2 separate regions of the Homo sapiens genome follow, and region 2 is linked to region 1. The links come from fine-mapping of genetic effects on gene expression. A gene starts in region 1. The other region holds a variant in brackets. All regions are shown on one strand. Distances are from middle to middle.

What was found.
Region 2: its variant is fine-mapped to the expression of HSPA12A in lung (TOPMed, PIP 0.98). The same link has a PIP of 0.9 or more in fibroblasts.

What each region holds. Positions count from the first base shown.
Region 1 is chr10:116,736,283-116,748,941 of GRCh38, reverse strand. It overlaps HSPA12A (heat shock protein family A (Hsp70) member 12A), which reads left to right and starts at 6,376. Exons shown (of 12, transcript NM_025015.3): 1 at 6,376-6,512. The coding sequence starts at 6,473. RefSeq lists enhancers at 5,103-5,806, 5,807-6,511 and a silencer at 6,062-6,511.
Region 2 is chr10:116,773,702-116,786,360 of GRCh38, reverse strand. It overlaps LOC105378498 (a long non-coding RNA gene), which reads left to right and starts at 12,361. Exons shown (of 3, transcript XR_946339.2): 1 at 12,361-12,659. It also overlaps a transcript of HSPA12A not described here. RefSeq lists a silencer at 1,397-1,563 and enhancers at 6,467-7,666, 10,986-11,485. The variant C/T (reference allele first, on the strand shown) is at 7,088.

The DNA of each region.
Region 1 (12,659 bases):
AGTGACTGGTCCCAGCTCCCACAGGGCTGCCACCAGGAACCCAGTGATATGGTTTGGCTGTGTCCCCGCCCAAATCTCATCTTGAATTATAGCTCCCACAATTCCCACATGTCTTGGGAGGGACCTAGTGGGAGGTAATTGGATCAGGAGGGCAGCTCTTTCCCATGCTGTTCTTGTGTAGTGAATATGTCTCATGAAATCTGATGGTTTTATAAAGAGGAGTTCCCTTGCACAAGCTCTCTCTCTTTGCCCACCGCCATCCATGTAAGATGTGACTTGCTCCTTCTTACTGTCTGCCATGATTGTGAAGCCTCCCCAGCCATGTGGAACTGTGAGTCCATCAAACCTCTTTTTCTTCCCAGTCTCAGGCATGTCTTTGTCAGCAGTGTGAAAATGGACTAACACATCCAGTGACCCAAAGATAGACAATATTTGGGCTCACTCTTGCAGAAGTCACTGAGAAAAGTGCTGGTTTCCCTGAGAAGAGTAGCAATGAGGATGGTGACTTAGTGTGCATTCCTAACTCTGGGGTTTTTGGAGACTTGTGCAAGCATTGCTCTTGGACACTGCTGTTGAAGCTCTCAGCCCTCTGGCTCAGATAACACCCTTATTCTAGGTCATTGGTCTCCTTCTCCTCAGCTGTATGCTGCCTGTACCTCTCCTCCAGGCAAATACTGTGACCATGGGCTTGCTACCAGGAAGAACACAACTGTGCAGACATGCCCCAGTGAGTCATCACCAAGTAATCACAGCTAGCACAAGCTATCTTCCACTTTGTATTTTGCAGAAGAGGCCAACAAGGGTCAAGGGTTAAGCTGGGCTGGGAGTCAGGGGGCTGAGTTTGACCGTAGCTCTGTCACTGATTGTGTGACTTTGAACAAGAGGTTTAGTATCTCTGAGCCCATGTTTCTACTTCATTATTTATTTATTTTTTATTTTTTTGAGATGGAGTTTTGCTCTCGTTGCCCAGGCTGGAGTGCAGTGGTGCAAACTTGGCTTACTACAACCTCCACTTCCCAGGTTCAAGCAATTCTCCTGCCTCAGCCTCCCAAGTAGCTGAGATTACAGGCACGCACCACCATGCCCAGCTAATTTTTGTATTTTTAGTAGAGACGGGGTTTCACCATGTTGGCCAGGCTGGTCTCAAACTCCTGACCTCAAGTGATCCACCCGTCTCGGCCTCCCCAAATGCTGCGATTACAGGCATGAGCCACCATGCCCAGCCTCCATTATTTATTTACTGGACCATTTATTCATTCCATCCACAAACATTTACTGAGTACCTACTGCAAGCCAGGCACTGGGCTGTGGGCTGGAGAAGAGGAAAGTTGTTTTTCTCCATAACATGAAACCCTTGGCTCTCATAGTGTCTGGTGAGTTGCAGCCCTTGTGAAAACTCTCCTGGTCACGTGATCATGCCAGTTTCTCTTCTCTGAACCTTTGTCTCAGTTTGCATTGTCCTCCTTGAGATGTGGCTTCCGGGATGTCCCGTCTTATTAATGAACCGGCAGCTTTGCAGGGCCAGGGTTTGAGCAGTTCTGAGAATGTGGCTGCGAGACTAACCATAGACGAGCCATTGCTATTTGAAATACTTACGAAAAATATTTGGATAACCTTCCATTACCTGAGAAGGCATTTCTAAAGTTTACATTGCAGTCCTGAGTGATGGTGATATTTGGAGCAATAATTTCCTCTGGCCCTTGAATTTTTGCCTGAAAGAGTGGCTCAGCAGCTCACATTGTACATGTGAAGGTTGTTTTGGAATGTTAATGGAGAGACCGATTCACACCAGATGGACTGGAAGACCAGTGAGGTGGGGAGGATGTATACACTGGCCACCATGATTCAGCTGTAAGGCTGGCTTTTTAAAATGCACTGACAGTTGGAGGTCAAGGCGGCTGACATTTGCCCAGGTTTTCTCTGCAAGTTTTTATGTTGCTTTAGCAAATCTGAATCTTGGTCCTGTTATGAATTAGTCTCTTTTATGATATTCAGTTCATGGACAACGTTCCGCTGGCATATCCTAAAGTCCAAAGCAGCTTTGACGGGCAGTGTCCTATGTCAAAGTTCAGATATGAACTCATATCAGTGTTTCTTAAGCTTAACAAAAACATAAAAGAAAAATTAAAATGGAAAAAGCTACTCATATCTTCTGTGTGTCTTTATCAGCCAAGAAAATCTTGCCTGGATCCATTCTGTAATTTATAATATACAAGGAAATGGCATTTTTGTGTTCAAATATATAAATTAAATAAGTCATATTAACAGTGGCATATATAGGCTGACTCTAAATGGAATGTTTTACATATATGATCTCTTATAATTATGATACCTATCATTACTGGGCCCTTTTGACAGGTGAGGAAACAGACCCAGAGAGGTATGTCCCAGGTCCCCTGAGGTGGGCAGGGAGCAGCTGAGCCCACTTGAGCCCTGGTCCAGCTGACCCCATGCTCTCTGCTTCCTCCTGTTGTACTTTTCTCATTCTTGGTCCTGATGCATCCCCCAGGGCTCACTGCCCTTAGCATCTGGTCCATCAACAATTATCCTCAGTTTCTTCTGAGCTGGGGGCCAGAGGACTCAGCTGCCTCCCCTACCCATGCTGTGCATCATGTCCAGCCCTTTCCACAGTTGGTAGTTATAGCAGGTGACAGAGTGCCCTGGCTGTCTGGTGCAGTTAGCTGGGCCTGCCTCTGGACTCTGACTTCTATTTGCATGAATGGATGTGGTGGGGGTTTGTTTGGGGGCTGAAGAGCAGAGAGGGAGTCTGTTGGCAGGGAAGCGTGTGTGGGGCTGTGGGTGAACGGGATCCCGGAGAGGATGAGAAAGGCCTGAAGCTGAGGAGGCTGTTTTCCATCAATGTTTTGCTCTCTGCGCCAGGCACCATCCTAGGGTCTGGGGGCTCTAAATGTGGACATGGCTGGTCCCACTTTGGAGAGCTGGCAGCTAGAGGGGGAGGTGGGTGACCTGAAGCTGGAGAGACCTGAGTTCTGGTCTCAGAGGTCTAGTCTCAGCACTGCAGCTTCTGAGCTCAGTGACCTTTCTGTATCTCAGTTTGGTCATCTGTACAATGGGGTTAACAATACTACTGACCTTGGAGTTGTTGTGATAAGTGCTAAGATAGGAGTGATGGGGGGTTGGGCACAGAGGAGAGAGGAGGGGCCTCATGTGATCTTGGAGGGCTAGGTGGTGTCCTGGAGGAAGTGCCATCCAAGCTGAGGCCTGTAGGAAGAGACAGGGTTGGTTACCTGGCAAAACTAGAGGAGAATCGGCTTCCAGTGGAGGCACTGGCTCTTTGGGGACCTGAGGGCAGGCCCTTGAAGCTGGAGTGACCAGCAGGAAGGGAACTAGAAGGTGGTCACTTGGCTCTGGGCTGGGCCACTTTTTAGGACTTGAGTATCCAACCGAGATGTGTAACATTCTCTCCACCAGCTACCACAGTCTACAGCCTGTGGAGGGTGTGGAGGGTGGAGAAGAGATGGTATAGAGGGTGCTGCAGTGTACCCACAGAGAGCACTGTGAGGAGGAGTCTTTGGAGGGGAGCTTGAGGGAACTTGGTACAGAGCAACCTCCCAGGAGTCTGGGCGTGCCCTGAGACAGCTGGGGCTGTGGAAAGGCATGAGCCCTGGGGGTCAGCAGAATGTCTGTGTGCTGGGCTGTGTTCCCGCTTCACTTACTGATTCAGCCAGTCAAGCATCAAGGATTTATTAAGTGCCTGCCATGTACCAGGCGCTGTTCTAGACACAGAGATGCAGAACTGGCAACACAGTCCACGATCTTGCTCTCCTGGGACTTACTTCCCAGTGGGGGCGAGGCAGCAGTTTTAGATAGAGTGTTCTGGGAGGAGCAAGCCACGTGATTGATTCTCTTGAAGGATGTGTCCGGGGGAGTGACCCCCCAGGTGGGGCCTGTGTGTGTTTGGGCTTTGGGGGGAATGGGAGAGTGGAAGGAGCTGAGGTCACTGAGGCATCAGGAGGCCAATTTGTGTAGGACCTGGTAGCAGGAGAATGACATGCTCTCTCTCTGGCTGCTATTGGGGAAGAAGACTCCAGGGAGGAAGGTGGGAACCCTTCCTTGATGTGGCGTGCTGAGCCTTGAACCCCAGCCTTGCTGCTGATGGCCAGAGGATGCCTGAACAGGTGCCTCAGCCTTTGAATGCTTCCTTTTCCTCTCCTGCAAAACCGCAAGGGCCACCATGAGAACTAGGTGAGACCACAACAGCCCCTCGCTGGCGGGCTGGATGGTGTGCTCAGCAGGGCGCGTTGTAATTAGTGTGATGAGCATGAAGGCCGTGAGGGCAAATCCCAGGCAGAGTGTGCGCTGCCTTTCATGCTCCCCTGCAAATCAAAAGTGTTCTGCTCTCTGCCCCCAGCACTGGGGCCTGCATGTCACCTCCCATCCTTCTCACGCACCCTCATGTCACTGTGGCTGGGAGTCCCATGAGGGCACGTGGCGCCCAAGGCCCTTCCACAGCAGGAGGCAGATGTGCAGGGGCTACGGGTTTCTGCTGCTTCTGACAGGCTGTCAAGGCCAATGTCCTGATGCCCTGGTCTGATGGGGAGGAACGAGTGCCTTGAGGACACTGAGGAGGGCCCCCCTGGCCAGCATGGGTATGCAGGGGAGCCTTCCTGGAGTTGGGCAGTCCATGATGAGAAGGAGAAGTTCTTAGGTTGCTGGTGGTGGTGAAATGAGAGGACGGGTGATCCAGGCATCAAGCACATTTTCATGTCTTTGAAATACCAGCATAAGAGAAGCAGGGGTGGGTGAGAGGGATTGAAGAATCAGAGCGGCTGTAGCTGGAGCTGGAGTAGGGTGGGGACAGACCAGATCACAAAGCATGGACTGAAGGGGTGAGACAGGAGGGCGGGGGAGCTGTGGGCAGGCTGTCGCAGGCACGTAGGCAGGAAGGGCCCTCGGGGGCCATCAGTGACTTAATGATTTTTACCATGTGCTAGATCCCAAGCTAAGCATGTTACATGCATAGTCTATCTAATCTTCAGTTTTATGAAGTGGGTTCTCCTGTTATACCCATTTCGCAGATGAGAATATTGAGGCTCAGATAGGTTAAATAACTTGACTGTGGTTTCATGCACAGCCAGGAACTGTCCATTTGGGATTTTTAATGCAGGCAGACAGAAGACAAGTTTTGTGTTTTGAACTTGTCACTCTGCCATCACCTTCTGGTCTCCAGGCTCTCGCAGCAGCTCTCTGCCCATTCCGTCATCCATAACGCTCTCGCAGCAGCTCTCTGCCCACTCCGTCATCCAGAACGGGATTGTACGATGAAGCCTCCCCTAGGTGATCTTTGGGAAATGCCACCCATCTCTGGAAGTGAGGGATGCTGGTGGTTACAGCTGGGTGGGAATCCCAGCTCCGCGACTCACCTGCTGGGTGTGATATTGTAACCCTGCCGATCCTCAGCTTCCTTATCTGCAAAATGTTAGTTATGGGGAGGAAAGGAGATAGAGGTAAAGCACCAGGCAGGTAGCACAGTGCCAGGCACCCGGAAACGACCCAGTGACGGTGCTCCTCGGATTCCTATTACTGCCCTCGTTTGCCAAGGCAGGGTGGTGACACCGCGGACCCAGGGGGTGCCTGGCCAGGCCCAAACAGGTGCCAGCGGCGCGTGTGTGTGGAGGAGCTGGGGACAGGGAGTATGAATCATTCACAACTGAAGCCTTGCATTATTAATATCGTTATTCTCAGACTTCTAAGGAGGGCCCAGCTGGATCCCATATATGGAAGGCGCGACTCAGCCTCCGGGGCAAGCACCTCCCTGGGTCCGGAGTTGCCATGGAGTCCCGCAGGCGGCCTGGAGGCGGTGCCCCGGGCTCGGCCCCCGCGCAGGTCCTTGGTCTGCGGCCTGGGTCCTGCCCGCGCCGGGGTCCACCCAGCCCGCCTTTGCGCCGGCCCAGGGCCGCTCCCCTGGGACCCTGGGGGACAGACAGAAGCTGGTGGGGACTGGCGCGGGCGTCCTCGGGAGAGCGCCGGGCGCGCTGGGCTTGCTGAAGGGCTCCAGGCCTGGCCATTCGGTGACTTCCAAAGAGGGGACGCGCCGCGGGGCCCCGAGGGCCTGAAATCCGCTCCCGCAGCGCAGCCCCGGGCGCGCCACTACCCCCGCCGCGGTCGACTGCGGGGCGACCGCTCGGTCCCGAAGCCGGGAGAGGAGAGGCCGGGCCTCGGCGGGCCGCTCTGGGCGGGCGGGGAGCGCAGCTCCGGAGCCAGGCAGTTCCCCGCGCCCGCCTTCCCCGACCTTTCCCGGCCGGCCCGAGCTCGGAGGGGCGGGGCGCCGGGCGGGCCGGGGCGGGGCCCGGGGAGGAGCCGTGGCTGCGGCGGCTGCCGCGTCAGAGCAGCGCTCCCGCTGCCCGGCGGCTCAGACACGGCCCGAGCGCCGCCGCGGACGCGGACAGAGACCCGCACGGGCACGGGCGCTGCGCTGGAGGCTCCCCTCGCGGTCCGGGGCTGCGCGACCATGGCGGACAAGGAGGCCGGCGGCAGCGACGGGCCCCGAGGTGAGCGCAGGCTGCGGGTCCTGCGGCCGCGGCTGGCGGGGCAGGGAGGGAGGAGGCGCGCTTGGCCCAACGCTCCGCACCCCCTCGCGCGCCGTGGAAAAGTGGGGACGCCCGCGCTGCATCCAGTTCTGGCGGGCGGGGCCGGGGTCAGCAGCAGCGGGGCCGGGGGCCGGGGTCCGGTGGACCGGAGACGGCCCGCGGGTCACATGTTCTGCGCCCCGCCAGGGTGCGGACTCCGCGGCGGGGACTGCAGCCCCCGCTGAGGCGCCTGGTTGGTCCCTGCCTCGGGTGGCGCCTCCTGCGGGGCTGGTCGCGCGTGCGGGTGAGGACCGCCCCGCGTGTGCAGCCCCCGCGCGATGGGCTGCGGAGGCCGGCGCTGGCTGGGTAAAGGGCCCGCCGCCGGGTGGCCGGGTGGCCCCAGCGGGTAATTTTCGTGACTCAGCGAGGCAGGAGTGGGAGCCTGGGGGAAATCGGAGATTTGGACCTGTTCCCTCGCCCCATCCCACCCCGGCCGGACGCTCGAGCCAGGAGTGGGGGCTGCAGCTGCGGCCGAAGGGCTTCTCACCCACCTCCCCGCCCATCCCCAGGGACTCACTGGGCTGGGGAAGGGTGAAGCGGCGGGGGTTCGATGGTCCCTTCCTTGCGGGGGGCAGGGGGAGGCACCCAGTGCGGAGGACAGACGCTCGCATTTTGCAGATGTGCTAGGGCCGCTTTCTTTGGGGAGCGTGATTAGGGCTCCGAAGGGTGGGGGAGCCGGAGAGGACGGGGAAGGGGGTTGCGGGAAGAGGACGAGCAGGTTTCGGAGCCCAGGGCTGTAAATCAAGGCTTCTCCCACGGAGGGCCCGGCTGGCCAGGATTCCAGTCTTCCTGTGGGTCCCAAGTGGGGAAAGTTGGGCGCATGGAGGCGCCGCGCGTCCCTGACCTGCAGGGCCTCGGCGAGAGCGGCCGCCGGGGAGAGGAGCGCGGCCCAGGCATCTTTCCCGGGAGCGACAGGCAAGCCGCCTGCGAGGATGATATTAAAATGCCGGGACGCAAGGGAGATTCAGCCACGAAACGAGCGCTTGGCTCTGCGGGGCCCCAAAAGCTGGAGAAACTGAGTCCAGTGGCAGCACAGCCACCATCTGCGCTGGGTTCCCTGTCTTGCTGTCGGGCCTGCGGCCCCCACCCTCTGCTGCACTCCAAGCCGCACCTGCCCCCACCCCAGCCCATTGTTCCTGCGGATCAGGGAGGTGCCTCCCCACGCGGCACTGCAGTGGTGGGGGAGTGCAGGGTGGCGGGTGGGGGATCCTGACAGGGCTCACTCCAGGGAGAGGCAGCGGAGAGCCCAGGCCGTCCCCAAACACACACCCAGTCCCCGCCTGTACTCTTCCTCAGCTGGTGAACGCAGGCAATGGACTGGCAGCTGTCTTTGTCTGAACATCACTCAGCAACTGGATTGACTCTTTTTTTTTTTTTTTTTTTTTTTTTTACTTTTTTCCTTTAAGTCAGAAAATAAAAAAATTTTTAGGACGATAAGTAGGGGCGTTGAATTGCTAAAGCCTGAGAATTACTGAGCCAGTTTCTTGCCTCTCATGCTGGGATAGGGTGGGCGATGATACCAAATACAAGGTTGGGCATAGGATTTGTCAAATCAGAAGTGGGCAGGAATGTGTACCCACTCCCCACACCTTTCCCAACACTGTTTTGTCTTGTAAATCAAATTCAGCACCCCTATCCTAACACACACACACACGCACACACACACACACACACAGACACACACACACACACACACACACACACACACACACACGGTGCTGGGAGAAATCCTGTCCAGGATGGGGACACCCATACCTGGTGTGCCGAGCCACCTGCCACCGCTCTTCTGCGTTTGTTCTGGAGTATTTGTTTCTTCACTTCCAGTCATCTCCAGCTCAAGGTGGCCAGTGAGAATTCCAGGTGCATGGACTTAGGACAGAGACCAACCTGAAGAGCGGGCTGTCCCTGGCAGCTCACTGTGCCTCTGGGCACCTCTCCCTTTATCTGTAAAATGGAGGATGTGAATAGTATTGCATAGGAGCAGAGTTGGCTTGCCCCTGGCCCCTACACTTATTTCTAAGGTTTCCTCATTGCTGGGAAAAGAGCGTGCATTATTTTATTGTTTTAAAGGCTCACAACAAACCTGTTACCAGCATTCTCCCCTTCCTGGGTGGGAAATCCAAACACAGGTTGAGTGACCTATCCAAGGTCACACATCTGGGAAGTGTTGTTTGGGACCCAGGCCATCTGATTCCAGGGCACCAACCTGTGCATACAGCCCTTATGCATGTGTGCAGTGGTTACCACTCTATTAAGGACATAAAAAAATGGTTGTGCTTCCTGGGAAGGATTTCCAGAATGTTTTTGGTACAAAAGGATGGGTGCCACAAATATCACACTGTTGGAATTTGTGAGCAGTGGCAGTCCTGGGTTGGGGAGGGGTTTGCTGGTGGGTAGGTGGTGTTGGGGGGTGGTGTCAGAAAGGCTGGCCATGAAATCTTCTCCAACAAGTGCAGTTGGGGTGGGGTGGGGAGTGGGCAGAGGTGCGTGCCAATGAAACAAGAATGGCAAAATGTGGTAGTTGGGTGATGGGGAGCGGCGGTTCATTACTATTCTGCTTACTTTGTGTATGTTTGCAAATTTTCTTAATAAGATGTTTAAATTACTTAATTTACAAAATCTGAAGGGCCACACTTGAGGGTCTGGGTGTTGGACAGCAAAATTTGAGATGACCTTCAATCCTGCCCCCTCCCGCATGACCTGAGTGGGTTGACACATGGAGCCCTAGAAGGGTGAGATGAATTGGGGGTGGACAGAGTGGTTCGGACAGGGATGGCTCCTATGGTGACCAAGTCAGGGCTAGACATGAAGAGTGGAAACCAAGTCATTTTTTCCAGGGCACGGGCTTGAGGAGAGGGATGGTGGGCAGGCAGTTTTGCCTGGGTTGAGGGTATCTCTCGAGGCCTGGCATTGGGCTTTGGAGATGCCATCCTGGAGGTTCATCTTAATAAAAATAAACATTTTAAACGTTCACTTTTATTGAGGACTTAGTGTGTGCTGAAACCTGGGAATATTGAGTTATCTCATTTAGCCCTGACCACGTTTGTTGTTGAATGAATGACTATGAAGGACGCCCTGTGATCCCCATTTCACAGAGGAAAAAGCTGACAGTCCTAGCAGCGCACAGCTGGAAGGGGGCCTAGGTAAGGACCTAGGCCATGGGATGCAGGCCCCAGGTGGTCAAGCTGAACAGCCTCTCCTGGCATGTGCCTGGCATGTCATAGGCCCTCAGGGACTTGTGTTGAGTAGGCCTGCGGCTAATAGAGAGTGGCTGCCCTACTTCCTTCAGCCACCAAGCTGTAGATGGTAGTGACAGGGCGCTGGTTATAGCCCCCAAAGGAAGTAAGCAAAGGTCAGGGTGATGCTCTGGGCATTGCAGGTTAGGGTTCTGGCTATGGGATCCACTTCCGTGTCAACATCTGCTGCTGCAACTTGTCTGCCGCCTTGGTGGTCCTCCCATGCCTTCTGTGTATGTCCCTACACAGTGTCTTGTGTTTCCCAGAGCCTTGTGATCGCCTTTGGCCCTGGACACATGCAGTCCTCCCTGCTTGGGACATCCTCTCTTTGTTTAGCAAGGTCCTACTCATCCTTCAAAACTCAGTTAAGGTATCACCTCTCAGGAAGCCTTCCTGGGCTCATCCATCGGGATGAGATCTGCCTGTGTGGTCCCAAAGCCTTCGGTACTTAATGGTTGATAATTCCAACTAGTGTTTGTTGAGGCCCTACGATATGCCAGCTTTGTATGCCTGTATCTCATTGACTCCTCCAGCAACCCTGTGAGGCTGGCATTATTATTACCCCATTTTGCTGATAAGGCAATTGAGGGCTTTGAAAAACTTGCTAACTTGCCCAACCAGTGAATGCTGGAGTTGGGATATGAGTCAGCCATGGAGCCTAAAATCTTGTGCTGTTTCTCTCAATGCTCTTTCTTCCGAGAAAGGCGTGGACTATGTCTTTCATTTCCATTTTTTTTTACTAAGGACACTAGTAGGTGTTCAATAAATGTCTTACTTTTTGTTGAGTGTCAGTCAGCAAGACATGAGGGAACACAGCAGAGGGCAATGGCGTCTACATCTTGCCCACTCCGCAGTGGTGCTCCTGGAAATGTGGATGCTCAGGAGTGGGCCAAGCTGGAGGGGAGTCAGGCAGGGCTTGGACAATCTCAGAAGAGAAGCTGCTTTGATTCCAATAAGGCCTGGAGTGACGACTCAATCTTGTGGGGGCGAAATGCTCTCTTTTCATATAAATAGGCCTCTTTGGTAAGGGAGAAAGCATCTTTATTACTGCTGTGCATAATTAGAACAGCGGGGAGGAATCAGGGGCTTTTAATGAATGAGCAGCGTGTGGCAGGGAATGAGTGAGCGCCTGCCACTGCGGGCACCCCCAGGCCTGGGCATCCCCAGGAGTGAGCGGGGCCAGCGAGGAGACGACCAAGGAAGCACAGGCAGTGCTCAGAATTGAAACCTGCCCCACTGAAGCGGGCCCTGCTGATCCTTGCTGCGTTCCTGTCATTGCAAATGACTCCCAGGCTGCAGCTTTGCAGATGCTGCTCTGAGCTCTGCCAGGACCACCCCTCTTCTTCCAGCCTTGACCGTGACCTGGCAGCCGCAGATGTCCTGCGGGGCTGGCAGCTGCTCCATGGCACCCCTTCTGGGCAATCCTGAGCTGCAGAGTTTTTGCCTTGATTTTAGTCCCCTTATTTTTAGGGTGGCCATATGTCCTGGTTTGCTGGAATAGTTCTAGTTTATGCCTCTTTTCCTAGTGAAATTAGTAATAATGATATCTTTCACCTTCTAAGTATCTCAGTTTGGAAGGTGAATTATGTGGTTGCGCTCCTTATCTTTGTCTTCTCAGCCATCCGGGCCTCAAGACGGATGAGGGAGGCAGTAGGGTGTGCAGGTAAACCTGGGCTTTGGTCTCAGATGCTTGTAACATCTGGGTTTAACGTTGCTGCATCTGTTTTTTCTGCTGTAGACAAGGACGATTAATAATCTCTGCTCTACTGGGGTGCTGTGAGAATGAAATGAGAGAGTATTTGTAATGAGCTTAGGTATGAGCCTGGTACACAGAGGGCTCTCAGTAACTTCCAGTCATTTTATTATCATTGTTAGGTTGATTTGGGAAGCGTAGTGGTTAAATGTGAGATCTGGGGCCAGACTGCCTGGGTTCAAATCTGTGCTGTGTCATTGACCTGCTCTGTGACCCTGGCAAGTTACTTAACCCCATAAAGCCTCAGTTTTTCTCATCTGTAAAGTATGGATTATAACAGTCTCTTCTTCATATGGCCTTTATGAGAATTAAATGAGTTTTTATATGAAAAGCACTCAGAGTAGAGCCGGGCATGAAGTAGACATTGAATTAATATGAGCAATTATTATTGGCTGTTATTGTTATTATGAATAAATGTCCCAACTTACATTCTTGTAGGCAGGAGGAATTATCCAGTACATTTGTTTCCTATTGCTGTTGTAAAACTTACCACAAATTTAATGGCTGAAAACCATACAAATTTATTATCTTACATTTCTGGAAGTCAGGAATAAGTCCAAAATGGGTCTCCCTGGGCTAAAACCAAGGTGTTGGCAGAACTGTATTCCTTCTGGAGGCTCTAGGGGATAATCCATTTCATTGCCTTTTCAAACTTCTCGAGGTGACCTGCATTCCTTGGATCGTGGCCCCTTCCTCCATCTTCCAAGCCCATCACTCCAGCCCCTGCTTTCATTGCCACATCCCTTCTCTGACTCTGCCCCTCCTCCTCCCATTCCCTTTCTAAGGACACTTGTATGAGGACCTCTTATTAGGCCTACTTGTGTAATCATTTCCCCATCTCAAGATCCTTAATTTAATCACATCTGCTGACTCCCTTTTCCCATAGGAGATAACATAGTCATCGGTACCAGGGGGCTATTATCGAGCCTCTCATAGCCAGAAAGATTGGAGTCTTGCCTAGGTTTGGGGTGTTGGAGAGTCTTCTGTGTCCCTCAGGAGCTGTCTGAAGTTTGGAAATGACTCCTCCTCCGTGTTGTACATTAGGTCAGGTTCCTCGTGCACCTGCTGCGGGTTGCCCTC
Region 2 (12,659 bases), 37 kb before region 1:
CTAGAGTCCTGAGCCCAGGCTAGGGGCAAGGCGGAGTTGTTCTGCGCAGCCTGTTTCCCCACCAAATTACCAAAAATATAGTTAAACTTAGGAATTCAGTTTGATCCATAACATAAACAGTCTATTTTAAGAAGTATTTACCACTGTGTCTCAGCCCCTGGGAGCCCTGCCTTCCATGCAACCCCACTGCTGAGATTTGCTGAGAGTCTCTTCTGCAGAACCCGCTCCATCTCCTGCGTAATTACCCGAGAGGCTCCACGTGGGGCTTCTCTGGCGCTAACCTCATAGGTGAACCTCATGAAGCTACAAAGATTCCCAGTGCACAGGTGGGCGTTAGATCAGCAAAGGCCTCATGACGGGTGCAGGAGTCGGGATGTCTCCCAGGGCCACAAAGAGATGTAAGCAGGGGAGGATGCTAGACCACTCAGGCAGAGTCTGAGTAGGCCATGGGGTGGGCCTGCAGTCTAAGGTGAGGGGAGGGGGGGAAATAGGAGGAATCTTGCGGTATTAGGGCAGTGGGGCAGGAGGGCTCAGCGGGGAAAGGCAGAGTCAAGTGGGTGCCTGGCTTCTGGCTGGGATAACCGGTGGATGGCTGAGACCATTCCCTGGGAGGGAGGGGGTGACAGCAGATGCCAGTGCTCAGAGGGCAGGTGGATATTTGGGGTAGTGTGTGTGTGTCTGTCCGAGAGGAAGAGAGAGGGATCATGAACAGCAGCATGCGGTGGGCAGCAGAGCCCGAGTGTGCGTTCCCCCAAGGCTGGGGAGTGAGCTGGGCTTTATGAGTGGGCACCTGCTGACCCCTGCATTGAGGTGGAGGCTTAGAGGGAGAACCAGGGAGGCAGGCGGGGATCTGGGTGGGGGACAGCCGTCCTGGGGCTGGGGTCAGGCAAGAACATTTCTGTCACAATGCCCTGATGCCATGCTCTGCTGGTGGCCAGGACTGCTCTCAGCTCCCACATCTTGATCTCTGTCCCCGGGCTGCCATGTCCACTGGCAGGCCTGGGTCGGGGCCGTTCCTCCTTCCTCCACAGCAGCACTAGGCTGTGGTGGCCAGAACGTTCCCGAACAAGACATCAGTCCTTGCCTGTGTTCCAGAATTCATACTCCTCCTTCCCACTACCTGAGGCTTTGGACATTTGAATGATGGTGGCGGTGGGTGGGAGGGGGAGGAAAGGAATCTGAGAGTGGACATGCAGGGGTCAAGCCCCAAAGCCATCTCAGAGCAGGGCACAATGAGGGTTTCCAGGACGCCCCTCCCAAAGGCTGGGAAATGTCTCCTCTGGAATCCAAGCTCCAGAGCCTCTTGTTGGTCCTCAACTTGTTATTAGGGCCTGAGGTGCTTCATGATGCCAAGAAAAGAGGAACACAGCAGGGCCTAGAACCAGCAGGACTGGGGCCTCTCTGGTTTCTCCTGTTGGCTCCTGCCTAGGAGCAGCTGCCTCCCTGTCTGCTGTTGTAGACACGTGCCCTCAGCATCTCCAGCCCAGACTGACAGCTCCGAGGTTAGCGTTACAGGCTCAACCCCAGACGGAGAGGCTCTGTCTATGTTGATTTCTATTTATCCCATCTAGTCCAAAGATCCCAGGGAAGGGATTCATTGACCCAGCTCAGCCAGGGACTCATTCCTCAGCCAGTCAGCTGGGGCCGGAAGCACAAGTCCCCAACTGCAAGGGCAACACGTGGAGGGAACGGGAAGGAGCAACTCTTGCTAAAGGGACGCTAGGCAGACAACTTCATAAATGTCAATCATAAGCCAATCTTAAAGGCATTCACTCATTCCTGCACTCATCCATTCATTCATTCATTCATTCCCTCAACAAACCTTTATTGAGCACCTACAGAGTCCAGGTACCACTCTAAGTGCTAGGCTTACTGAAATGAACAGGACAGATGAACTTCTTGCTCTAGTGGAGCTTACACGCTAATAGGAAGATAAACCAATAAACGAGAAAGTGACCAGGATGTGAAAAATGCTCTGCAGAACAGAGAAATCAGGCAATGGACTTTGGAAAGTGCTCAAAGACCCTGCGCTGCCACTTGCAGGGCAAGGGGCCACCTAGGTCAGGAGCGGCCTGCCTTGGAGAGACATGCATCACCCCAGCCACTGCCCATTGGCCAGAGCAAGTCACAAGGCCCCAGCCTAGCCACAAGGGAAGCTGGGAAATGTGACTTTTGTGTGTCCAGGAAGAGGAAATGGGATTGGCAAGCACATGGCCAGTCATGGCTGTCCCACTTAGCCATCTGGTTCCCTAAGAGGTCAACACTGCAACCAGGTCCTGATGTGTCCTTCCAGTGAGATCTTTTGGATACATAAGAAAAAAATAGATGTAATTATGTAATTTTAAAAACCATAAATGGGCTGGGCATGGTGGCTCATACCTGTAATCCTAGCACTTTGGGAAGCTGAGGTGGGTGGATCACTGGAGGTCAAGAGTTCAAGACCGTACTGGCCAACATGGTGAAACCCTGTCTCTACTAAAAATACAAAAAAGTAGCTGGGCGTGGTGGCACATGCCTGTAGTCCCAGCTACTCGGGAAGCTGAGGCAGGAGAATCGCTTGAACCTGGGAGGCAGAGGTTGCAGTGAGCCATTGCACTCCAGCCTGGGCAAGAGAGTGAGACTCTGTCTCAAAAAATACCCATAAATGGTGGTATACTAACACACCATTCTGTTCCTTGCTCTTTTTTCCCCCCACTTAAGACTATATCACAGACAACATTGGAGGATTTGGATCTGGGCAAGAATGTGCCCCAGTTTATGTGTTACAAAACTCACCCTGGCTAGCGGGAGAGAGTGGACTGGGGTGGGGACGGTGGGTCAGGACTGTTGCAGCTGCTGCAGTTGACGGCTGTAGCTCTTTGTCCGTGTGCAGCCTGTGCTCCAGCCAAGTCCACCCACACGCTCATTCATTCAGTGCTTGACAGTCAATAATCGTGGGCAGACCCTGGGCCACATGAGTCAGGCTCTGTCCCTCTTCCCACTCACTGTGCCCCGAGCCATACTGCTGCACACTTTGCCAGGGCACAGGCCACCTTCTGCCATCCAGGCTCCTCTGCCACTGACTCCTCCAAATTCTTCCAGACATGTCTCCAACGTCACCTCCTCATCAAAGCCTCTCCTGATCCCCACAGCACCACGTCGATGGTGTGGAAAGAGGGACCTGGACTGGAGGTGTCTCAGCCCCAGCCCTTCCCATTGGCACTTCCTGGAGAAACAGCTTAGTCTTTCAGAGCCTCAGTTTGCCCATCTGTGCGCTGGACGTGATTGGTATCTGTTTAACACATTGCCTGTGTGGATTACGTGGGAAAGGCTGTGGAGAGACCTGGCATCTGAGTGGCAGGAGACATTTGTCATTTCCCTTCTTTCGCCTTGGGGCCCACCATGTTCTCTGCCTCTCTGAGGTTACTTCTAAGGCTTCCAGTACCCTCCGTGAGGGTGACCCTGTGTCCTGGGCTTGGTATGTTGCCAGGCATCAGGCCTGGGAGTCAGTCTCAGTGTCTACTCAGCGATTTTGTTGAAACTGAGAGTCCACCACCCAGCTTAAGACGTAGAACATTGTTGGCACCTGTGAATCTACTTGCACAAGCCTTGGTGATCCTGTCCTCTTCCCTGACCAGGCAGCCCCTACCCTGAATAGCATCTCATTTATTCCCTTGTTTTTAAAAAGCAGTTGATAGCATGTCTATGAGCCCTACCTGAATAGTCTGTTTAGTTTTGCTTGGTTTTTATGACAATAGTGTCACACAGGAGGCATTTTTTTGTGACTTGCTTTTTCTTTTGCTCCACATTACAACTCTAAGCATCATCCTTGTTGCTGGGTGTACCTGTAGTTCATTCCTTTGCAATGTTAGGTAATGTTCCACCCGGGACTATGCCACAATTTATTTATCCATTCTTCAGTCAAAGGACAACTCCCTCTCCCGATTTTGGTTGTTACAAAAAGCGCTGCTATCAGCCTTGTCATATACGCAGGCTTGGGCACAGGCACTAGGCTATGCTAGTGGGGTTGCTGTGTCAAAGCTCACGTATCTTCAGCTTTTCAGAGATTGCCAAATTTCCAAAACAGTCGAATAAGCCTCTTTCTAGCTTTGTGTAAAGATCCCCGGTGCTCACCCACTTCCTCACCAACCCTTGGGATAGTCACATTTCTGAGTTTTGTCCATCTAGTGAGCACAAAATCTCATCTTATGGTCTCACTTTGTGTTTTCTTGGTCACAGCTGAGGTTGAGCATCTCTGCGAACGTCTCTTTGCCCTTCTTGTGGGCCTCTTTTGTGACATGCCTGACCATTGTTCTCCCTCATTTTTGTATTGGGTTGTTTTTTGAAATTGACTTGTAGGAGTTTTTATGCATCCTGGATACTAGCCCTTTGTCACTCACAGGTGTAAGGAATATTATCTCCCAGTTTGAGACTTCCTTTTTACTGTCTTTTGATGAATGTTATGATCTTAATTTTAACCTGGTAGAATGAATCAGTCTTCTCCTTTACTGTTTGCATGTTTGAAGACTTGTTTTAAGAAATGCTTTGTTTGTTGAGTCAGATTGAATAGCTGGACCCAAGGAGGACACCCCCTACCCAACCTCAGAAAAGGCAGAGCCCACAGCAGACCCTCAGGCACTCGGTGTAGCTGACAGCTGAGAGATTGATTAAAAACTGGAGTGAGGCAAGAGAATGAAGGAGAGAGGCCGAGTGCTTTGAATTTGATCCTTTTAGCGACAATTAAGCAATCACCACACCACGGATGGGCAGAGAAAAAGGCTTCCTGAGAAACCGACACAGGCTGTGGCAGAGGCTGCCCTTGGCCTCACCTTGGACCCAGGGCTGTGGGGCTCCTGCACCACCCCTCCCCACTCCTCCCCTTCAGTTTTTATTGCAACATTTCATTGAGACAAGTGCTTCCCCCAGGGGTAAACTAGAGAGCCAGAGGACCATCTGAGAATGTACAGGGTGAAATCACTGAGGCCTGACCGAGCGGCATTCATCATCATCATCATCATCATCATTGGCACTGATTGGGGAGTAGAGAGAGTGAATCCAGAGGAAATCCATTTTTTTTTTTCTGTTTTCTTTTAAGAGGCAGGGTCTCACTCTATTGCCCAGGCTGCAGTGCAAGTTTCACTGCACCCTCGGCCTCCTGGGCTCAAGAGATCTTCCTGGCTCAACCTCCCAAGTAGCTGGGACTACAGGCATGTGCCACCATGCCAGGCTAATTTTAAAAAGTTTCTTTTTTGTAGAGACAGGGGTCTCACTAGGTAACACTTAGTCTCAAAATGGATGCCAAGGCAACATAAAATTTTTGAACTCCTGGCCTCAAGCGACCCTCTCACCTTGGCCTCCCAAAGTGCTGAGATTACAGGCATGAATCACTGCACCCAGCCAGGATGGGGCTAGGAGTGAAAGGGTCAGTGAACTTGAATAGGCAAAAGTTTATGTCCTTATTTTCATTAATCTCTGGCTGAAATGTAGCATTACTTTCAGTTATAAATGTAGAGGACAAACCAAACAATGTTAGCAATGCCTGTGACTCGTCACCCATAGAAATCACAGAGAGTTTTACATCCTATTACTTTGCTTGTAGATATTTTGAAATATCCACTTAAAAATTATGATTGTTATATAATTCTACTAGATCCTTGTTATTCAATGTTTTAATGAAGAAGCACGCATCATAATTTTTAAAAGGATTTGATAATCGTATTAACAAATAATTAGGTTCCCTGGTAATCCTACCTGGTTTATTTTATGCATTTAAAAACATTATTTTCCAGTCTGGGTAACATAGGTAGACACCATATCTACGAAAAATAAAATAAAATAAAATAAAATAAAATAAATCAAAAAATTAGCTGGGTGTGGTGGTGCGTACCTGTGCTCCCAGCCACTCAGGAGGCTGAGGTGGGAGGATCACTCGAGTGTGGGAGGTGGAGGCTGCAGTGAGTGGTGACTGCACCTCTGCACTCCAGCCTGGGTGACAGAGAGAGACCTTGTCTCAAAATAATAATAATTATTATATAATAAAATAAAAATAAATAAAAATATTGTTCTGAGGAGGGCTCTATAGATTTCCTCAGGTGACCGAAGAGTCCATGAAACAGGAAGGTTAAGAATTGGACTCAAGGGAGAGCCCTCTTCCTACAGGGAAGACACACCAACTCTTGTGATCTTAGACTAGCTCCAGGTATGGTGGAGGATGGAGGAGATGGTCTGCGACAGTGCCCTGCAGCTATGCAGGGAGTGACTGCTGTTCCTTGTTGCTGGGCAGTCCCTGTGGATGAACGGGATCTTTGCCCTTCGCGTGAGAAGGACGCAGTGCCCAAACAGCTTGCTCTGGCGGAATTAGTGGTCTCTGACTCGTGGCTGGCCTGGGTGCCTGCCTCCTCTAGGTAGGTCGAAGCTCCTTCAGGGCCGGCCAGCCCTTGTCCATGTTCTAGGGGAAGGGTGGCTGCAGTCCCCTAGGGAGTGGTGCCATGGGCCCACATGGAGTCGGGGTGCGGGGACGGAGTGCACTCAGAGCTCCAAGCCCTTAGGAATCCCGTCCCCCCTGCTAGCTCCTCTTTACACACACCCACCCTGTTTTCCCTTCACATTGGGCTTCGTGCCATTCCCCAACATGCCCAGCGTTATTCGGTTTCTGGAACTTCCTTCACCTCTCCCACCTGCCTGGGTGTCAATCAGGATAGACATAGCAAAGCTTGGGAGCAAATGACCCCCAGATTCCATCGCGGGCTGGCAGCAACACTGTTCCTGTTGTCTTTGTTCGGGCCTGGGGCTGACAGAGTAGCCTCCACCTGCAACCTTCCCTGTCTCCTGGCAAAGGGACAGAATATACTGACCAGGCAGAGTGTCACTGCCCTCATGTCTCATCAGGCAGAGTCACGTGGCCACACCCGAGTCCAGCAGAGCAGGAGTGCGATGTGGTTCTCTCTGAGGGAGGGGCCACAGCCCTGAGGTGCCCCACCCTCATCTCCCCAACCGTGTCAGGGTGATTCTGTCCCCATTGAAGATTCACCCAGGCCCCACTGGCCCTGGTCTCCTCAGTAGGTGCTTGTCTCCCCTCCCTGCTACTCTTGTGTTTGGGGTGGGCACC[C/T]GGATCAGCTTCGATCTAGCTTGCACTGGACCTTCCGTGTTGGCAGTGACTCATTACACCCACATGTCCCCCTTGGAGTTCAGCCACGATGTGTCGCTCACGATGTTGCGAAGGGAAGCAACTGCCGATGAAGGCCCTGGAGGGCTTGGAAACCACGTGCCTTGAGTGATGGCACTTGGTTGGAGAATCAAAGAAGGATGTTTTGTTGCCTAACTTGAAAGGAGCTAACTGACCTATATCAGGCATCAGGATTAAAGACCTGTGTGACCCAAGGGCAGACAGACCCTTCCACTCTGCCATGGACTTCTTTCTGTTTCTGGGTTTGTTGTTGTTGTTGTTTTGAGACAGGGTCGTTCCATCTCCCCACTGCGAGTGCAATGGTGCAGTCACAGCTCACTGCAGCCTCAGCGTCCTGGGCTCTAGCGATCCTCCTGCCTCAGCCTTCTGAGTAGCTAGGACCATAGGCACATGCTACCATGCCCAGCTAATTTATTTTATTTTGTTTTATTTTTCATAGCGGGTCCCATCATGCCATCCAAGCTGGTCTCACCATGTTGCCCACCACACTGTTCTCAAAGTTTTGGGCTCAAGCGATCCTCCTGCCTTGGCCTCCCAACATGCTGGGATTTATAGGCTTGAGCCTCCATGCCCAGCCTGGACTTTCTGATGAAGCCAGGCTTGGGTTGTGGGAATTATGGGGAATGTGCTGACAGGAATGACTACACAAAGCTTCAGCCAAAGTGCAGCTCCTTTTGAAGGAGCCTGAGCTCCTTCAGGAGCAATGTGGTTCTCTCTGAGGGAGGGACCACAGCCCTGAGGTGTGCCACCCTCATCTCCCCATCCGTGTCAGGGCGATTCTGCCTGCTTTGAAGAACTGCTTCCTTCTCTGACCTTTCTGTGTAAGGTCGGCTGTTAGAGCACCAGCTGGAGGTTTTGGGGGGAATAGTCAGTGCCCAGTCATCCTTTGGTGAATTAACTGCATTGGGCAAAATTAAGTGCATTCATGAAAGAAAAAACCTACTAGCAATCAGCAAAAACATATGCATATTTAAATAATATATTGCTTGGAAATGTCAAGTAACCATCTTGGGACTAGTGTCAGGGCATGTACCTCCCCTTTCCCAAGCTGCTGTGGCCAACCAAGGCCCCCCCAATGATGTGCGGCTCCTCCTGAGAACCAGTTGTTAAATTTGCAGGGATTTTGTGGGCCAGTTGTTAAGCACAGCCATTATTAAGAGTTAAATAACAGGCTGGGTGCAGTGGCTCGTGTCTGTAATCCCAGCACTTTGGGAGGTTGAGGCGGGCGGATCATGAGGTCAGGAGTTTGAGACCAGCCCAGCCAACATGGTGAAACTCCGTCTCTACTAAAAATACAAAAATTAGCTGGGCATGTTGGCACATGCCTGTAATCCCAGCTCCTTGGGAGGCTGACACAGGAGAATCGCTTGAACCCAGGAGGTGGAGATTGCAGTGAGCTGAGATTGCGCCACTGTACTCCAGCCTGGGTGACAGAGTGAGACTCCGTCTCAAAACAAAACAAACTCAGCATTTTCTAATTGTTTTTGTGCATCTGATCTGACTATTGTCGATGCACTTAAGCTTATTTGTGTCTGTTGCAGCTCTGGGATGGAAACGTAGTGGCGTGCGTCTCTTTACAACTCCGTATTCGGTGACATCATGTGGGTAGCTGAAAATCAGCCATGGTGGGGATATGTACACCTGGGAAGTCCACACATGTCCCTGTCTGGTCTGGGCACGAGGAGGCCTGAGTGGCAGGCTCTTGGGAACTGGGTGTGAGGGTGGAGGCACCAGGTGGGGCAGGAAGGAGGAGGAAGAGGCCAGCAGCAGCTGCTCTGTGGCTCCGTCCACCTGAGGACTAATGTTTGAAAACTGCAGAATTTGCAAAGAAACTCATAGCAATAATTATTCTAAAAGATACTGTTTTAAGTCATTTCTTTTATTATTTAGATTATTTTGGTTGCTTGTCAGTGTGACAGGCCATGCCTGAGCTGTCCATGTAAAGTTCCCAAGGGGCATAAATGGGAGACTGCAGTGCAGCCTCAGATGTGGGGGGACCACCCAGTGCCACGCGGCAAGAACTTAACACCCGGGTGTTGACGAGGCAGGGAAGAAAAGGGGCGCATCTGCAGCTCAGCGCCCCTCCAGCCTGGCTGGCGTCTCACACTACTCATGTCAGAGAACAATTCAGCGGGCTACACAGGAGCCATGGTCCACCCAGGAGCTTTCTTACAACCTCCTTCCCCTGTGCATTGCTTCCTTGATGCTTCTGCAGTAAATCAAATTAAAAGCAAACTTGAACCAAGTCCAGGTTGTCAATATCTCCCATTCTCGAACCTAGTCCAGATTCCTGGTACAGACATTAAGCATCTTATATGATGCCTCACATCCCTAAATTATCATATTTGCATCAAACTTTTAAGGATATACATCTAAAATACATTCTGAAATAGTGTTTATGATTCTAATTAAGATTACATTAAGCCCAGTTTTTAGAGTTTTAAGCATTGTATATGGAGTTAACAATTAAGAAAATAAAACTCATGTATTTTTAATTGCTCTTATATTTTGATGCTCTGTGGCATCCACTGAATCAATGGCTTGAGTACTTCAGGGAAGCGGTGGATTCTGCTACAATAATAAATTCGTTGTTCACTTTGACGATCAAATTAGGCTTTCCATTTTGTTTTGTCTTCTAGGCAAAACAATAGTCTTGAATGCCGGGTTTTGTTAAGAAAAAAAAAATTTTCTGAATTCCAAAGCTTCTTTCTAAATATAAGGAATCAATCCCGGCTGATTTTGAGCGTAGAGTTTTACTGTAAGCCATAAATAGAAGGAATTCTGGATACAATGGAAGTGAGTTCCTGGGAGACAGGAAGGCAGAGGAGAAAGCACTATGCTTTGCCTGGGAGAGGTTTGTTGGGGGTGAGACCAGCGGGAGGAAGCGGCCAAGAGCTGGAGGCTGCTTTGAGCGAAATCCCGAGGCAGAGGGGGGCGTCCAGGCGGACGGACCTGAGATGCTCCTTGTTGTCCACCCATGACACCTGCCTGTGTCCCACAGGAGTCCCAGGGGTGGGCCACAGAGGTGCTGAGGCAGGGAGGGGGTGAGGTGGTCACCCAAAACAGGGACCTGGGAACCAGGAGCAGTGGCACTTGTCTTGGGTACTGGGGGGCAGTCAGCTCAGTGGACAGAGACCAATGGGATGGGTCACTTAACTGGAGGCCAGAGGGGACGCAGAGGATGGCAGGTAGACCCAAAGCCCCTCACTCACCACCAACGTGAGGCCACATTAACTTCTTTTATGGCACTCAGCTGCCCCCAGTCTAGTCCCTGGTGGAGTCACATAAGAGAGTCTGTGCCAGGCTGGGGACCACAGTAGAAGGCATAGCTCCCCAGCTGCAGGAGCCCTCACAAGACCCCAGGGACAGAGAGGTCATAGGGGCTGCAGGATTAGGCCAGGTCACTGTCTCGGGGAGGAGTTGGGAAAGGGCTTGAAAGCCCCCTGTTACTTCTGTGCCCTGATGTCCCCAAATCCTCTGGCCCCCTGGCCTGAGTGTTTCCTTTAGCAAGCAAATGAAATGGCCCCAGCACCTTCCCAGCATCCGAGCACTGAGGAAAGTCAGGGCTCACCCAGCACTCCTGTGGGGAGAGGCGGGAGGTCCTTCTTCCATCCCCTCTCATCGGGTGCCCTGAAAGTCAGTATCACGAGGCTGTCAGTGGGAACAGACAGAACTGACCAGGAAACAAACTTCACGGTCAATGTTAGATTTCCTGTTTCTAGAAAATACATTGGCCATTTCCAGCTACAGAGACTCCCTTCCCAGGCTGCCCACTGGCTGGCCCCCGTCCTCCCCAGGGCTCTCTAGAAGAGACAGTGTGGGGTGACAGAGAGAGCTGGCTTTGCAACCGGACAGGCAGGAGTTCAAATCCCAGGCTCCCGTCTCACTGGCTATGTGGCCCTGTGTGACCCTGGGATCTTTCCTTCCTGAGTCTCAATTCATCCATCTGTAAAATGGGAGTCCTGAGGCCCTATCCATAGGTTTGTGAGTGGTGGGATAACTGATATAAGGAACTCGCACGTTCTTAGTACAGAATCAGCACTTGGTAAATGGCAGCAATTGCTGCTATTGGCTTCTGGCCCAATCCCTTGGGGGCACCTGTGCCAGGTGTCTGGGAGGACACTAATAAAGAGTGACTCAGCAGAGACAGCCACAGGATGGGCGGGAGGGAGCAAAGGAATGCTGGAGTCCCCCAAAGCAGCACAGTTGGGAGCAGTGGCGGTGGGTGTGTAGCAGTCGACCTGGGGCCCTTGGGGAGGGAGTGGAGTGACAGGATGCCAGCTGGACCTATGCCATGGCAGTATAGCCAACACGAGGGGCTGGTGCAGGAGCCGGCAGGACTGGGGCCTGCAGGGGCCAGGGTGGAGGGCTCCAGGCTTGTGCAGCCTGCAGGGTCAGGGTGGAGTCAGGCCAGGGCCACGTGGGCAGGCATGGGACTGGGGGAGGAGCTTATTCAATGGTGGACCTGGGTTTTCTGGTGGGTGAATGAAGGGGTGCACAGAAGGCCTCCCTCTCAATGTCCCACTCTCCAATCCTTTCTCCTAAGAGATGGATCTGGGCCATGAACTCCTGCTCCAAAAGGCCAGTCCTCTAGCAGAGCCACGTCTGTGAAGAGACCCAAGAGCACCATTGACATTTCTTTATTCCAGGGGTTCTCACACTTTGGCAAGAGTGTGAGATGTGCAGTTGCTGGGCCCTACCCAGAGTCTCTGGGTCAGTAGATCTGCCTTGGGGCCTGAGAATTTGCATTTCTATTAAGTGCCCAAGAGTTGTTAATGCTGCTGGTCAGGGACCACACTGGTCAGGGACTGAACTAGGCATTGGTGCAGTATCACCTGGGACCCTCGCAGAGTGCTCTATGGCAAATATTTCAAAAAAGCCCTTGCCGGCCGGGCGCGGTGGCTCACGCCTGTAATCCCAGCACTTTGGGAGGCCGAGGCGGGCGGATCACGAGGTCAGGAGATCGAGACCATCCCGGCTAAAACGGTGAAACCCCGTCTCTACTAAAAATACAAAAAATTAGCCGGGCGTAGTGGCGGGCGCCTGTAGTCCCAGCTACTTGGGAGGCTGAGGCAGGAGAATGGCGTGAACCCGGGAGGCGGAGCTTGCAGTGAGCAGAGATCCCGCCACTGCACTCCAGCCTGGGGGACAGAGCGAGACTCCGTCTCAAAAAAAAAAAAAGCCCTTGCCACAGAGCAGGTTCCCCCACCCCATGTCATAGTGAATGCCACTCAAGACCAAAGAGGGTAAGTAACCTACCCAAGGTCATTCAGCTGAATGGTGGCATAGTTATCATTTGTAATTAGGTCTCCTGGCTCCAAGTCCTCCACCCCGTCACCATGATAATGACCATTGTCAGCATCATCACCATCATCGTCATCATCATTACCACAGGCACTGTGAGCTCCCTGTGGGCTGTTTTGCAGCTTTGCCCCTGCCCAGGACCAGGGACCAGCCAGAGCTTCATAATTGTCAGCTGAGTGGAATCCCTTCT